Regions from separate parts of the Homo sapiens genome. Here regions 2, 3 and 4 are each linked to region 1. The links come from fine-mapping of genetic effects on gene expression. A gene starts in region 1. Each other region holds a variant in brackets. All regions are shown on one strand. Distances are between the middles of the regions.

Evidence for each region. PIP is the estimated chance that this variant, and not a neighbour inherited with it, causes the effect.
Region 2: its variant is fine-mapped to the expression of SYNJ2BP in thyroid (GTEx, PIP 0.96).
Region 3: its variant is fine-mapped to the expression of SYNJ2BP in tibial artery (GTEx, PIP above 0.99). The same link has a PIP of 0.9 or more in fibroblasts and gastroesophageal junction.
Region 4: its variant is fine-mapped to the expression of SYNJ2BP in lung (TOPMed, PIP above 0.99). The same link has a PIP of 0.9 or more in testis and whole blood.

The regions. Positions count from the first base shown.
Region 1 is chr14:70,415,596-70,418,095 of GRCh38, forward strand. SYNJ2BP (synaptojanin 2 binding protein) reads right to left here and starts at 1,495. Exons shown (of 4, transcript NM_018373.3): 1 at 1,305-1,495. The coding sequence starts at 1,368. SYNJ2BP-COX16 (SYNJ2BP-COX16 readthrough) reads right to left here and starts at 1,495. Exons shown (of 5, transcript NM_001202549.2): 1 at 1,305-1,495. The coding sequence starts at 1,368. It overlaps LOC124903339 (a long non-coding RNA gene), which reads left to right and starts at 1,490. Exons shown (of 2, transcript XR_007064237.1): 1 at 1,490-1,593. RefSeq lists enhancers at 1,271-1,350, 1,282-2,481, 1,461-1,570.
Region 2 is chr14:70,365,951-70,368,702 of GRCh38, forward strand. The region is part of intron 3 of SYNJ2BP-COX16 (SYNJ2BP-COX16 readthrough); the gene reads right to left. It overlaps SYNJ2BP (synaptojanin 2 binding protein), which reads right to left. Exons shown (of 4, transcript NM_018373.3): 4 at 549-2,752. Among named protein-coding and RNA genes, the nearest start is that of COX16, 7.6 kb to the left of the region's middle. The variant C/G (reference allele first, on the strand shown) is at 1,152.
Region 3 is chr14:70,306,860-70,309,611 of GRCh38, forward strand. All of the region lies in intron 4 of LOC101928046 (a long non-coding RNA gene), which reads left to right. Among named protein-coding and RNA genes, the nearest start is that of COX16, 51 kb to the right of the region's middle. The variant A/G (reference allele first, on the strand shown) is at 1,221.
Region 4 is chr14:70,302,759-70,305,510 of GRCh38, forward strand. All of the region lies in intron 4 of LOC101928046 (a long non-coding RNA gene), which reads left to right. Among named protein-coding and RNA genes, the nearest start is that of COX16, 56 kb to the right of the region's middle. The variant A/G (reference allele first, on the strand shown) is at 1,392.

The DNA.
Region 1 (2,500 bases):
AGACACAAAGTATGGATAATTCTGAAAGTTATATTTTATAAAGAATAATCTATCCATGATTAAGCTACTGCAGAACTGCAGATGAGAAAAGGTGATGGACTGTCCTAGGTAGTGGCAAGGGAAACAGGAGTGAAAGAATTTCAGGAACATTTCAGAGATGGAGCTCAGAGTACTTGATGATTTATTAGAGACTCTTGGAATACAGTATTAGTAGGATTTACTGTGTCAGTTTAGCTATTTATCCATTAACAGTAACAATAGTAGGAAACACATACTGTTTACCATAGGTCAAGCAATGTTGTAAACATTTTACATGGATTAACTCATTTCATTCTCACAACACTATGAAGTATATTTATAACCATCCCCATTTTAGAGATGATAAACTAAGGCTTACATCAGTTAAGTTAGCCAATAAGTATCAAGAATCAGTAAGAGGTTAGATACAAGATTTAGACCCAGATACTGTAATTCCAAAGCTAAAGAGCTCTTAATTGATCAACTAAATAGTTGTAAAGGAAAGTAAACAAAGTCGAAAGCAGGCAGAATGTAGTAATGTCAAGAGCCCGGTTTAATGAAGAGCCACAGTGGGGGAAGAGGATAGCAGTTTGGCTGCTCAAAATCACATGAGGTGTTCATAAAAAATAAATAAATAAATAAAATAAATCTGTATTAAATCCAAATCCCTGCAGATGGGAGATAAGATTTAACTTTTTATTTTCTTTTTTTTTTTTTTTTTTAAAGCCCTGGGTAATTTTGTGGCGGAACCAAGTTTGGGAACCTGTGTAATAAAAGATTTCTAAGGGCTCTTCCTGCTTTAACATTCTAGTTGACATTGTAAATGAAGTTCCCAGAAATCAAAGGAGCGAGGGAGGGATCCTAGCTGCAGGAAAACGGCTATGCATTCAGAGTCCACACCGTTTATGCTCCCATTTTACTAAACGGTCCCTCATAGGGGGAGGGATAGAACAGGCAACGGAAAGAAGGATGTGGTATCCACGATAAGCAGGCTAAAAAAGCAGGCTTTTAAAAAGGCTTTTCTAGCACGATTTGCACAAAGAACCCCTTCTTGACTATATATATTTGTGTTCATCCAACTGGATTTTGAGGTGGATTCCTCAGACCCGTATCTGGCTAATGATGGATTTCAATATATTTTCTCTAAGCACCCCGAAGCGTTGCACGAAACCTCTAGGTTGTGGCCTGCCCGCCCCGAGGCCAGGTGAATCCGGCTCAGCAGCAGAGGTGTCTGCAATTACACCCTCTAATCCCCTACTGTCAGATATGACCCTTTCCGCACATACCTGAGGGCCCTCTGGTAAGATTGATCTCTTCCTCAGTGACCAAATAATCCACTCTTCCGTTCATGTTTTACAGCTCGTCTGGCTTCCTACTTGGGTCAGCTGGAGTGCAGCACAGGTGAAGGTGAATCAATCTCGGCGCTGCGCCCACAGCACAGCGGTTTCGGTTTCAGCAGCCTCGAGACCCGGAAAAGGAAGCCCGAAGGACTCGGAGCACTGGGAATGCTGGGAATCGTGGTTCCTACCGCCAATGGATTGCAGTTTCTCACCGGTTCCCAAAGCCAAGCATGAGGTGAGCAAGGGGCAAGTTACCATTCTAATTTGCCATTGGAAGCAAGTGGGAAGGGGGTGGCTAGTAAAAGTAAGGGACCTAAATAAATTGATATTGTCGAGAAAAAAAATTTTAAAAAAATCTCCTGCCATCCTAGAAAATCTCCACAAATGTAGAAAAGAAAAAAAAGGTGTATTATTCTGTAAGCATCGAACCAGACCGGAATGGGTGTTACAGGCAATCCACTAATGAGATTGCAAAGAGAGACAAAAATCTCACATTTTATGTAGCCAAAGCACACGCATCTTCTCATGTAAGACGAGTTAACATGGTTTGGTATTCAATTTTTGGTAGTTCACCGTTGGAGTGGCCGCCTGTGTTGGTTAATTGCCTTTATCCAAAGGAAAAATAAAACGTTATCTCTGTGACAAACAGGTACTTACGGCTTGGAGCAAGGCGCTTCGGGTAACTCCCGCGAGCCTGGAACATAGGGGCACTGTCTACCTTGATACTTAAATTTCAAGGAGTTGGCTCCCGGGACCTGACGAAAACAATTCCTGGGTTTTATCTGACAAGAGGCTTATTTAGCTTTTAAAAAGATACACACACACACACACACTACACACGGATTATAATTACAATTTGCTCAAGAAAATGTTTTAAGAAAGGGGGGTGGGGGAATGTCTCATTCTTTTGGCAACTGGGAAAATTCAATCTTTTTAATGTTTTAACTCTTACAATAAGGTTAACGCATGGCTTAGGTATAACTTTAGGCCAGTCTTCCTGACTTTTGGAATGAGACATTCCAAACTGAACTTGAATGAAACTTCAGGGGTCAAAAACACAAAAGCCTAAAGAGCCAGGAAGGTGACAACCTTGTGAAGCAACCTGGAGTTAGACCACAGGGATTGGTGGGGATCTTAGAGGA
Region 2 (2,752 bases), 50 kb before region 1:
ACAGATATGAGAATTTGGCATTAAGTTATACAAAAGGGCAGCCTAATGCAGTGCCTGGTACCATGGGAAGTAGAGACAGTAAGGTGTTATAGTTATGAATGCAGGTTTTGAAGCCAGATTGCCTGGGTTTAAATCACAGCTTTGGCACTTAGTAGCTGTATAACTTGGGCAAGTTACTTAACCTCTCTATGCCTTTTATCTATAAAATGAAGATAACAACAGCAGTTATCTTAAGAGTTGTTTTGAGGCTTAAATAAATATTATACATGCAAAGGCCTTAGAACAAAAGCTGGAATATTGATAAGAGCTCCATAATTGTTAACAGGATATCAATGTCCTGTTCCTTATCTCCTATGTCAAAGCCTCAAACTGATCATTTAGATTTCTTCCTCTTTCCACAATTCTGTCAGAGGTGTTACCCTAAGAATATCTAGTACATAGTAAGCACTTATCAGATATTTGCTGAATGAAGGAAAAAACCCTCATCTGGAAGAAAAAAAAATGAGATATTTAATCAACGGTCTTCAAAATAAGGTGAAAAAAGATTGTAAAGATTCAATGACAAAGTTTTATTAAATACCAATACTGGCTAGGCACAATTAGACACATTATTATCTCATTTGCTGTATCTGGTATCAAACAACAAAGCCTGAAAGATTACCATAGATTTTGATGGCCTCATTAACATAATTAATCCGTAGTGACATTCCCTGGATAATAAATACAGTTTTATGTCCGTGTGTCTTCTGTGTCTTCCAAGTTGCTACAGGGCTCTATTTGATCTGAGAAACTGACTGCTGTTTACATCCAGGTATGCAATGTGACATTAGAATTGAAGCAGAAAGGAAGCAAAACAAAACAGGGTTCATGAGGAAAATAATCTTCTAAGAACTAACATGGCCTGGAGGTAAAATGCAAATATATCCGGTAATAAGAAGCCCAGATTACTGCAGATAAAAGATTAAAATAGGATTCAATTATTCATCTCCATTTGCAAATCTACAAACTAGGAGGAAGGACTAACCCTTTTCCTGGGATTAGTAACTAAATTTAATGATTACAGCAAATATAAAGTTCTTTTGTAAATTATTGTTGGTTAAGGATTGACTTGCATTGACAACACACTTTAGCTCTCGCCCCTTTCATTCTCC[C/G]CCTGCAAGAACAAAGGCAAAATGAACAGTGAGGAAAACCTGGAAACAGGACCGAGTGTTTGCTATCACTTGATTCCTTTGAAGGAGCAATGCTTTCTCATAATATAGGTTTTATAGTATCATCAAGTACATCAGTTAAGCAAATCAAGTGCTTTGTGTTCTGTATATAAATTACATAATACAAGAGTCTGTGGCAGTTAAGAATCTGGTTCTGCACTTTGGGAGGCCGAGATGGGTGGATCACGAGGTCAGGAATTCAAGACCAGCCTGGCCAAGATGCTGAAACCCCGTGTCTACTAAAAATACAAAAATTAGCCAGGCGTTGTGGCACACACCTGTAATCCCAACTACTGGGGAGGCTGAGGCAGGAGAATCGCTTGAACCCGGGCGGCAGAGATTGCAGTGAGCTGAGATCGTGCCACTGCACTCCAGCCTAGGCGACAGAGCAAGACTCCGTCTCAAAAAAAAAAAAAAAAAAAAAAAAAAGAAAAGAAAAGAATCTGGTTCTGATCAGAATCCTTAAAATACTGTCTTCTTTTTTATCACAATTGCCCTTTTGGATGTGAGTGCTGGTCTCAAAAAGATTTGCAGTTAAAAGAGGAACAGCAAAAAAGACTTACACCAAAATAGCAACCAACTCTAAAACTATTACAGGTGAGAGGTAGACAGCTTCATAACTCAATCTTCTACTACCAGGTGATGTTAAAAAAATACTTTAACATCAAAATCACCTACAAATATTCCTCCACTTTCATATGCTGAGCAATTTCAGCTTAGAGTGACTAAGTGTTATTTATCTCTCTATCTTCGGCACCTAGCACATAGTAGGCAGTCATTAGTTATTTGCTGAATGAAGGAAAAAAACCTTCATCTGACCAACGATAAATTTCACTAAAATTGACTATAATAAAATCTGTATGGGCTCCACATGAAAACTACATGAACTTCACTTCCCCACATACCTGACAGCCTATACACTTCCTTATGTTTCATTTCTTTAAATATACTTTAAAAATTGCTTATTTACACAATAAAAACAATGTCCACCATAAAAAAAAAAGTCTCTAGAACTATTGGAATTAGTCTCAGAATAACTCATCTGATTGGATTTGATATGAGATCATTCTCAGATTGTTCTGTGGAATCTCCCAATTCCAATAATGATGCTTGCAATATCCTTTAGCTGTCTATCAGTTCTGGTCTTTATTCAGGCCCAAAGAGAGAAGAAAGAAGTAGACTAAGATAAAATGGGTAGTCTGTGTATTCATGTAGTGAATATATTCAAGACATAAATATGAGACAGAAAGGTCACTTCTGCAACAAACTAAGTCTGATCAGAGTTAAGTTAGCTTCCCTCTCTGAGCCTTTATTTTTCTCATCTCTAAGACAGATTCATCCTAGAAGCTCTCTGGTCCTTTTTAGCTTCAATGTTCTATGATTGGTTCTCATTTAATTGATGCACCAACTGAAACACTCACTAATCATACATTTTGCTGGAGGTTGATCAATCCTTAGCAAATCAGGAAGAAATGAATGTTCCACTTACTTCGTGCAGAAGCTCAGGAAGCTGGGCTCTAAAGGCCCAAGTTTTTGTTGTTGTT
Region 3 (2,752 bases), 110 kb before region 1:
TGCCCATTCAGTATGATATTGGCTGTGGGTTTGTCATAAATAGCTCTTATTATTTTGAGATACGTCCCATCAATACCTAGTTTATTGAGAGTTTTTAGCATGAAGGGCTGTTGAATGCTTTTTCTGCATCTATTGAGATAATCATGTGGGGCTTTTTTTTGGTTTTTGTTTTTGAGACAGAGTCTCGCTTTGTTGCCCAGGCTGGAGTGCAGTGGCGCGATCTTGGCTCACTGCAAGCTCCGCCTCCCAGGTTCACGCCATTCTCCTGCCTCAGCCTCCCGAGTAGCTGCAACTACAGGCACCCACCACCACACCCAGCTAATTTTTTGTATTTTTAGTAGAGATGGGGTTTCACCATGTTAGCCAGGATGGTCTCAATCTCCTGACCTCGTGATCTGCCCACCTTGGCCTCCCAAAGTGTTGGGACTACAGGTGTGAGCCACCGCTCCCAGCCCCAATCATGTGGTTTTTGTCTTTGGTTCTGTTTATATAATGGATTACGTTTATTGATTTGCATATGTTAAACCAGCCATGCATCCCAGGGATGAAGCCAACTTGATCATGATGGATAAGCTTTTTGATGTGCTGCTGGATTCAGTTTGCTAGTATTTTATTGAGCATTTTCACTTCAATGTTCATCAGGGATATTGGTCTATAATTCTCTTTTTTTGTTGTGTCTCTGCCAGGCTATGGTATCAGGATGATGCTGGCCTCATAAAATGAGTTAGGGAGAATTCCCTTGTTTTCTATTGATTGGAATAGTTTCAGAAGGAATGGTACCAGCTCCTCTTTGTACCTCTGGTAGAATTCGGCTGTGAATCCATCTGGTCCTGGACTTTTTTTGGTTGGTAGGCTATTAATTATTACCTCAATTTCAGAGCCTGTTATTGATCTATTCAGGGATTCAACTTCTTCCTGGTTTAGTCTTGGGAGGGTGTATGTGTCCAGGAAGGTAGATTTTCTAGTTTATTTGCACAGAGGTGTTTATAGTATTCTCTGATGGTCATTTGTATTTCTGTGGGATTGGTGGTGACATCCCCTTTATCATTTTTTATTGAGTCTATTTGATTCTTCTCTCTTTTCTTCTGTATTAGTCTTGCTAGTGGTCTATCAATTTTGTTGATCTTTTCAAAAAACCAGCTCCTAGATTCATTGATTTTTTGAAGGGTTTTTCATGTCTCTATCTCCTTCAGTTCTGGCTCTGATCTTAGTTATTTCTT[A/G]CCTTCTGCTAGCTTTTGAATGTGTTTGCTCTTGCTTCTCTAGTTCTTTTCATTGTGATTTTAGGGTGTCAATTTTAGATCTTTCCTGCTTTCTCTTGTGGGCATTTAGTGCTATAAATTTCCCTCTACACACTACTTTAAATGTGTCCCAGAGATTCTGGTACGTCATGTCTTTGTTCTCATTGGTTTCAAAGAACATCTTTATTTCTGCTTTCACTTAGTTATTTACTCAATAGCCATTCAGGAGCAGGTTGTTCAGTTTCCATGTAGTTGAGTGGTTTTGAGTGAGTTTCTTAATCCTGAGTTCTAATTTGATTGCACTGTGGTCTGAGAGACAGTTTGTTATAATTTCTGTTCTTTTACATTTGTTGAGGAGCGCTTTACTTCCAACTATGTGGTCAATTTTGGAATAAGTGCCATGTGGTGCGGAGAAGAATGTATATTCTGTTGATTTGGGGTGGAGAGTTCTGTAGAAGTCTATTAGGTCTGCTTGGTGCAGAGCTGAGTTAAAGTCCTGGATATCCTTGTTAACTTTCTGTCTCATTGATCTGTCTAATGTTGACAGTGGAGTGTTAAAGTCTCCTATTATTATTGTGTGGAAGTCTAAGTCTCTTTGTAGGTCTCTAAGGACTTGCTTTATGAAGCTGGGTGCTCCTGTATTGGGTGCATATATATTTAGGATAGTTATCTCTTCTTGTTGAATTGATCCCTTTACCATTATGTAATGGCCTTCTTTGTCTCTTTTGATCTTTGTTGGCTTAAAGTCTGTTTTATCAGAGACTGGGATTGCAACCCCTGCTTTTCTTTTGCTTTCCATTTGCTTGGTAGATCTTCCTCCATCCCTTTATTTTGAGCCTATGTGTGTCTCTGCACATGAGATGGGTCTCCTGAATACAGCACACTGATGATGCGTCTTGACTCATTATCGAATTTGCCAGTCTGTGTCTTTTAATTGGGGGCATTTAGCCCATTTACATTTAAGGTTAATATTGTTATATGTGAATTTGATCCTGTCATTATGATGTTAGCTGGTTATTTTGCTTGTTAGTTGATGCAGTTTCTTCCTAGCATCAATGGTCTTTACAATTTGGCATGTTTTTCCAGTGGCTGGTACCAGTTCTTTTTCATGTTTAGTGTTTCCTTCAGGAGCTCTTGTAAGGCTGGTGGTGACAAAATCCCTCAGCATTTGCTTGTCTGTAAAGGATTTTATTTCTCCTTCACCTATGAAGTTTGGCTGGATATGAAATTCTGGGTTGAAAATTATTTTCTTTAAGAATGTTGAATATTGGCCCCCACTCTCTTCTGGCTTATAGAGTTTCTGCTGAGAGGTCCGCTGTTAGTCTGATGGGCTTCCCTTTGTGGGTAACGCGACCTTTCTCTCTGGCTGCCCTTAACATTTTTTCTGTCATTTCAACCTTGGTGAATCTGACAATTATGTGTCTTGGGGTTGCTCTTCTCAAGGAGTATCTTTATGGCATTCTCTGTATTTCCTGAATTTCAATGTTGGCCTGCCTTGCTAGGTTGGGGAAGTT
Region 4 (2,752 bases), 110 kb before region 1:
CTTTGTTTCAAAGCTAAACTATAAGTTCCTCCCAAAGTCCAGAAATGAATAAGGACAAGCTTGGAGGTTAGAAGCAAGATGGAGTAAGTTAGGTCATATATTTTTCACTGCCTCAGTTAGAATTTTGTAATGGTGAGTTTCATAACTTTAAATGATGACTATCGTAGTTTTCATAAATAATCTAGGTAAATGAATAAAATAAAATAATTAGGTAAATATAATGGGATAAATACTTGTAGACAAATGTCATAATTTAGAATCTAAAGTTAAATTAAATGATATTTCATTATTTGGGTATTTTCTGATAAAAATATATTGTAGGAAAACATTCTTTCTAAAAAAAAGTGTCCTTTTTAAAAAGGTGAACAATTTTCGTCTAATTAAAAGCTTATTTAAAGGTTATGTATAAAACAAGTTTAAAGGAACCAGGAAATAGGGGAAATGTAAAGAACGGTATGAGATAAAGAGGCATTTTTTGGTAAGAAAGCTTAAAAAGAAATAATTTTACATGAGAAAGCATTGAAGCCATTTTGTAAAAATCATAACTGAGAAAATTATGACAATGAAAGATATCAGACCTAACTGACCCCATCTTGCTTCTAACCTCTAAACTGTCCTTGTTCATTCCTGGGCATAGGCCAAACTAGCTTTGGGAAGGGATTTAGTGTATAGTTTATATAATAGCCCTCCCCAAAAGGCTAAACTGTTCTTATAAAACAAATGAAAGGCCACCAGCCACCAAGTCAAGATGAGAGGGGCTGGAATTCTAAATATTACCCGCCATTATTCCACAGGTCATTAGATTTACAACTTCCCCAATTACTCTTGAAGGTAACGTCACTATTGTGAACCTAAGATCGTCCTTTTGAGATGTCTTTTCAGGTTTTTGCATTTTTAACAACCAGATGGCCCCACCTGGATCTGCCAACCAGTTCTGTGGCTCCCACCCAGGAACTGACTCAGCAGATGAGAACAGCCTGGACTCCCTATGATTTCATCCCCAAGCCAACCAATCAGCACTCCCAATTCACTGTCCCCATCCCCCACCCACCAAATTAATTTTAAAAACACAAATACCAGAGTTGTCAGGGAGACTGATTTGAGTAATAATAACATTCTGGTCTCCTGCACAGCCAGCTCTGCATTAATTACTCTTTATTACAATTGCCCTGTCTTGATAAATTGACTCTGTCTAGGCAGCAGATAAAGCGAACCCCTTGGGCAGTTACAGAATCTTGTACGGTAAATTTAGACCTAGAATAAAATGACTGGTTGTTTAAGAAAGAGGAATGTTCAGGACAAACCAGAAAGTCCAAACATATCATTAATGGTCTGTGTAAGTCACAATAAAAGGTTTTATTAAAAAAAACATTTATATGATCAAGTTATCT[A/G]TAATTAAAGGGAAATTATAATGGTCTTTCTAGAGAATGGGCTTGATGTAAAAAAAAAACACTTGTACACTAAAGAATTGATTAGAACAATAAAATTCCCTAAAGGGATTGATTTACTCTTAATAAATTATAAGAGATTTTAATTTTTTAACCCAAAGTTTAATGTTTAGTGCATCTCACTGTTTCTGGTTTTCTCTCCCCTTTTAAAAGGCATGAAATAATAACAATCTCCTTCAACTCATTTTCAGCTCATATTTTTTTTTCTTCAAGATCTGTTTGTTGTAGCCTGATGCTAACAATACTTTCTTAAAGATGTAAAGGAAATGTTTTCTTACAAAATAATATTATGTACATTGCAGAAGGTCTTTTTCCTTTTGGTAACTGACCTAACAAATTTTACATTTTATTAAAATAATTTCTATATCATTATTATTAAAGTTTTGCTTTGCTTAGGAAAAAACTGAGATTAATTTTTTTTTTTAATTGAGGTTCTTACATCCATGTATCTTTCTGTATGTGATTTAAAAGTACTTGTGACATTAAGTTACAGGGCTTTGACACTTGGGTCTAAAAAGGACACCAAGTCTTGCTAAATCTTTTTTTTTTTGCCCTTTTTAAAATTATTATCCTTTAAGTTCTAGGGTACATGTGCACAACATTCAGGTTTGTTACATATGTATACATGTGCCAAGTTGGTGTGCTGCACCCATTAACTCGTCATTTACATTATTTCTCTTAATGCTATCCTTCCCCCATCCCCTGACTGTACAACAGGCCCCGGTTTGTGGTGTTCCCCACCCTGTGTCCAAGTGTTCTCATTGTTCAGTTCCCACCTATGAGTGAGAACATGCAGTGTTTGGTTTTCTGTCCTTCCAAGAGTTTGCTCAGAATGATGGTTTCCAGCTTCATCTATCTCCCTACAAAGGACATGAACTCATCCTTTTTTATGGCTTCATAGTATTCCATGTTGTATATGTGCCACATTTTCTTAACCCAGTCTATCACTGATGGACATGTGGGTTGGTTCCAAGTATTTGCTATTGTGAATAGTGCCGCAATAAACATACGTGTGCATGTGTCTTTATAGTAGCATGATTTATAATCCTTTGGGTATATACCCAGTAATGGGATGGCTGGGTCAAATAGTATTTCTAGTTCTAGATCCTTGAGGAATTGCCACACTGTCTTCCACAATGGTTGAACTAGTTTACAGTCCCACCAACAGTGTAAAAGTGTTCCTATTTCTCCACATCCTCACCAGAACCTGTTGTTTTCCTGACTTTTTAATGATCACCATTCTAACTGGTGTGAGATGGTATCTCATTGTGGTTTTGATTTGCATTTCTCTGATGGCCAGTGAT